2 separate regions of the Homo sapiens genome follow, and region 2 is linked to region 1. Evidence: fine-mapped expression QTL. Tissue or cell type: whole blood. Region 1 holds a variant in brackets; the other region holds the start of a gene. All regions are shown on one strand. Distances are between the middles of the regions.

The links. PIP is the estimated chance that this variant, and not a neighbour inherited with it, causes the effect.
Region 2: it holds the start of TADA1, and the variant in region 1 is the best candidate, but not a certain one, in a credible set for the expression of TADA1 in whole blood (INTERVAL, PIP 0.62).

The regions. Positions count from the first base shown.
Region 1 is chr1:166,816,054-166,818,738 of GRCh38, forward strand. No RefSeq gene overlaps it. Among named protein-coding and RNA genes, the nearest start is that of POGK, 22 kb to the right of the region's middle. The variant T/TG (reference allele first, on the strand shown) is at 1,348.
Region 2 is chr1:166,875,026-166,877,710 of GRCh38, forward strand. It overlaps TADA1 (transcriptional adaptor 1), which reads right to left and starts at 1,239. Exons shown (of 8, transcript NM_053053.4): 1 at 1,135-1,239. The coding sequence starts at 1,208. RefSeq lists silencers at 696-1,095, 1,126-1,175 and an enhancer at 1,576-1,625.

The DNA of each region.
Region 1 (2,685 bases):
TAATGTTATGGGATCTTTGGGGTTGTCAATATTCTGGCCAGAAACCTCTGTGACCATAACACTGTTGCCCAAGTTTTTGTCCTGCGTCCAGGAAGAATGAGGTACAAAGACAAGTAAAAGGTGAACAAGATGAAGATGGGCTCCTCTCTGTAGGCAGGTCATCCAGCAAGTGTTCAGGTCTCAGCAGAGGAAGCCCTGGAGAGGATAGTTCGTCTCTGCAACTGGTCATCCCAATATCTGCAGCCCTCAGCCAAGAAGAGACCCTGGAGAGGGAGAGCATGGTTCCTCTTGCAGGCAGGTCGTCTCTGCAGCTCTCAGAGAGAGGGTAGCTCCTCTCTGATGCTGGTCATTCCATCATCTCTAGCTATCAGCAGAGAGGGTACTCCTCTCTGCAGCTGGTCATCTTGTCCTCTCTCTGCCCTCTTCATCCTCTGGCCATCCTCTGCCCTGCTCTGGCTGAGCCCTGGGCTTTTATGGACCTCAGAGGGGAGGAAGTGAATGCCAGTTGGTCCATGGTTGGCCATGGGCTAGCAGAAGAGGATCCATGAGTCCCCACTCCAGTCCAGGGGACTGGCAGCCCAGCCCCCAGCCTTCAGGCCCTCCCTGGCCTGAAAGTGGAGCCTTACTGGGGACCCATCCACTTCCACCCAGGAATCTGTCTGCCATTCATGCCCCTGGGGCTCGGTCCCAACCCTGCTCTGAGATTGGAGTTGCTGCCGGTAGAGAAGAGGTGGCACCAGGCAGCAGGAGCAGACATTTCTGAGCCAGCAGGGGAAGGCGGGCCATTCCCGGCCTGATGATGCTGGCTGCAGAGATACCCAGGTGCTGCACCTGGGGAGCTCCTGCCCCTGCCCTGCCAACTAGGAAGGGGCAGGGCTCCCGCTTGTCCCCAGCTCCTGCCTGCTCCATGGAGTGGGAGGGCCAGGTCTGCAGCTGAGGGTCAGGCAATTTCAGCTGCACCCCAGAGGGCAGATCCTGCCTGCTCCCAGCCTGCCCCAAGAGCACAGGGAGGCTCGGATCCAGAAACCTCTGTATGGGCAGCTGTAGCCCTGCCCAGGAGGGCGTGTCTTCTGCCTGCTCCATAGAGCAAAAGGCCTGGGTCTGCAGCCTTTTTTTGGGAGGCTGCAGCTGCACCCAGGGAGCTCCTGCCCCAACTCAGAAAAGGCAGGGATTCCGCCAGTTCTATGGAGTGTACAGCCCCTGCTGCAACCAGTGTGATGACAGCAGCCACTGGCATCAGTAATTTTATTAATTATAATTTATATAAAGACATTAACATAAAAGTCCATAGTGAATTTCAGTTCTATTTCCTATCTTCATGGTTTATTTGGTCTCCCCACCATAAGC[T/TG]GGGGGGGGAAAAAGGGTGGTGGAAAACAGTGCCTGAAACCCAATCAATGTTAAGAGTGTGGTCTCAGAGACACCTTGAAGTTATGTGAAGACTAATACCAAATACTGCACTGATAACCTGGCATTCTACTGTCAGGGGCTCTCTCCCTTCAGCTTGAGGCTTATCTAGGAGGAATCCACTTTGCTGCAAATATTTGTTTTAATTATCCTGAACAAAGTTACTACAGAATGTAATATTATGTAATATGATCAAGTAGTTGTAATCTTTAAGACAGGAAATCAACATGGTGATCTGCTCCATTTTCTCCCTGAGGAGGAAAAAAAATGAGAGAAGCTTCCAAGGAAGGTCAGTTAAAGGAGATATGAAAAACCATTTAATTGCACACTTAAAATGGGTGAATTTATGGTATATGAATTATATCTCAATAAAGCTTTTTTAAAAAAAACTATTGAGAAAACCTGTGAGGGAGAAAAAAAAAGGGAGCTATGAAGACAATGACAGATCTTAAGAAATAATTCTAGATTGCCACTAACCTAACAGCTTTCATGGAAATAAACTGTATCATTTTCTCTTCTCTCTTCAATTTGGAATGACTGAATAAAAGTCATTTTATTTCCTTGCCTAGCAAACCTATCCACATTGGTAACTCTAACACCCATTTTTCATAAATATCCAGTACCTGATTCTTTCAGCTGTCCTCCAGTCATGAACCTGCTCATAAGGGCCAGCTGTTACATTTTCAGGCCTTTTGGTCAGTGTTTGTTAAACACAGCCATCAGTAAAAATCAAACTAAACTCAAAATTAAGTAAATTAAATTAAATACATAGGTGATAAATACCCCAAAGTTATCCCTTCCCCTATTACTTTACTACTCTTGTTATTATCTATGCTTTGAAGTGTATTTATATCTATTGAGGTTATTTATGTCTATTGGACAGAAAAAGATCATCCTGTGCAAGAGTCAGGAATGGCAAGAGAAATAGGAAGAAAGGAGGAGGGCATCTGCCACTGTTAGCTACTAGTATTGTTATCACTGCTGCCATTGTTGCTACCAGTAGACACTGAGCCCCACAGTGTATAAGCTATGGCACCCTTAGCAGTTGGCACCCTTCTAAGAGTTCACCCCAAAAGATCTTGCACACCATGGCCCAAGAAAGCCTGGTCACCAACAAGCTAAGAATTCTACAAGGCTCAGAATTTCCAACAAGCTCAGAATTTCCACAAGGTTCTGCTCTGTAGTTTTGGCATTATCTTTTATTTCTCCTTCCAAATATAGCAATAGTGTTTTGCAGCCCCTTAGAATGTGTTGCACTCATCTATTGTAGATGGCAATGGT
Region 2 (2,685 bases), 59 kb after region 1:
GAAGGATGAAAAGAAAGTATTGGAGAAAAATTAAGTATTCCCAAATTGCTCCTCCACCAACATCATTTAAAAGTATGCATCCACTGAGTAATGCAAATGTGTAGAATACCAGAGAAGCCATCTAGCAGCAACAACACAGGCACTGTAATTTTAAACGTTTATATTTGCTTCCTATATTTTTGAAAAATAAAGTTGTAATAACAACGTTTTGAAAATTTCCAAACTCTTCCTTGTATCCCAGAGGTTCCTTTTTTGCTCTTTGGCTTTGGCTTTGACTGGATACTGATTTTACCCTTGGCCATTCTGCACCTAACCTGACTGTGCACTAGGTCCCCTGCCATAACCTGGATGAAGGTCTGGCTGAGCGTCTCTGGGATCCTTTACAGCCCCTCTAATGCATCAGTCGGGAATCAAAAGCGTGGGTCCCAACTCTGACAGTGACTTTTGAAGAGTTACTTGTCCGCACTAGGTCTCAGTCTTCTCATCTGTCAAATGGGAATAACAACTGTACCTATCTCACATCTGTTGTAAGGATTAGATAATATATTTAGAGAGCTTAAAATGTTTAAAATGTCCGCTACTGCTATCATCACTATAATTGTAGTGTTCAATGACTGTGATTTCACCAGAGGGTCCGTCTGCCTTACGAAATTGCTGTCAAAAGAGCTTACCAATAATCCGTAGCAGATCACACCAGCTCAACAGGCCTCCACCTCCAGGAAGCCCTCCAGGGGCGGGCCGCCCTGCGCTATGCCCTCTGGCTGGACGCGTAGGGCTCCGGCTCACTCCGCCCAAGTCAGCCTCCCGCATCCCGCACGCCCGCGCTGGGGCCCGCACCTGCTCAGCAGGCCCTTGGGTGCGAAGTGCGCTTCTCCCGCCCCACCCAGGGCAGACAGTCCCGAGCAACGGCGCCCGCCGATGTCTCCCGGGCGCCCAGGAGGCCCGGTCTCTCCAGGGCGGTGAGTTCAGGTGGCCCGCCCCGCCCCGGCCGGAGAAACCCCGAAGCCCCGCCGCCGCGGACTCCAGGCTGCACAGGCCCCCGGGCGACGCGGGCGTCTCCGGGGCGGGCTGGCAGCCCGAGGCCAGGAGAGCACCCGCGTGTTGGCCTGGACGCTGTGCTAGGGCAGCTCTTACTGTTTCACGTTGTCCCCCAGGGCCTCGCTTAAGTTCTTCTTGGCCGCCTCCAGCTCGCTCACAAAGGTCGCCATTGCTCCGCGTGTCTCAGCCCGACCGCAGACCGCCCGGCCACCGCGATCAACAACCCAAAAACCAACTCGGCGGAAGGCCTTGGCTCTGGAAGCTAAGCCGGCCGCCGTCAGTCCCGCCCCCAATCTCTCAGAAGTCGTTTGTTTGGTTTTCGGCTCCGCCCGCCTTTTCGCAGGGAAGGTGCCCGGCCAAACTCTGCTCTCTTCCTCCCGCCCCTCGAGTCACGTGATCCGCTTCACCTTGTCGCGCGCCCATCCTAAACCCGCGCGCCCCGCCTCGGCTGCAACGTTGCTGACAGGCTGGCGTGTCCCAAGCTCTTTCATTCTGTTACCGCTGGGGCAATTCCGAATTCAGCCTGCTGTTCTTCTGCCTGGAGGAGTACCTTACCCCTCCATTTAAAAAAGTAAATGCAGTATCAGTTTTACTCTTTCCTTGCCTTATTTTTCCCCGAGCACTAACCGTCTCATATGACATTTAGTTGATTTATCTTGTAAATGTTATGGCTCGAGGACAGGAGTTGTGTTTTATTCACTGTTACCCGCAATTCTCTAGAGCAGCGCCTGGCACATAGTGGATGCTTAATAAGTATTTGAGTAAATGAGGTAACTATGTAAAATTTGGAAAATACACAGAAAGATAAAGATAAAAAGAAGGAAAAAGTGTTTTACCACTCCCGGACAAACACTTAACTGAGAGAGATTTCTCCTTCACTTCGCACACTCCCATGACTTAAAATATTCTATGTTCAATTTTGCACGTTTTTAAACTTAAGGATTTATCTGTAGTATTACATTGTCTTTAGAATAATTTTAATGACAACATATTAAATACCCCCACAGATAGAAGGTACACAACTTGTTTCCCAATTGTTAGACTGTGTCCATTTCTTCTCTATTAAAAAGCAATACTGTAATATTGCTTTTGAAGCATATAGCATAATGAAGCAAAACTTCTTTATGCATAAAACTTTTCCTCCTTTAGGATTATTACTTTAGCATAGAGTCCCACACATAGAATTACTGGATCAAATGATGGGAATATTTATAAATGCCTTGGTGTATATTGTCAAATTGCCTCCCAAAGTTTTTTAAATAATCCTAGATAGCTTTTAGATCTTGTGTAATTTCTCCAAAGATGTCCCCTTAAGTTCATTCATTCAACTTCCTCACTGCCCAACCTAAACCCACAAGCCCTGTCCTGGCTGCAATGCCAGCCGGGCACCTTCTCTTCACTTGAATTCATACAGTGAGCTCCTATTATGTGTCTGGAACTCTTTGAGTACTGGAGATACACAGGTGAAAGGAGATACAAAGGTCAGGCAAAGTCTTCCTCTCTGTGTCAAAACTCTGGGTAAGTTTTGACACATTTAAAAAATATCCACTTAAGTTTTCCATGGCTCCCCACGCTCTGCTGAACAAATTCCAGACTCCAGCATTCAAATGTTCTCATGATCTGAACTCACCCTACCTGTGTACCTCA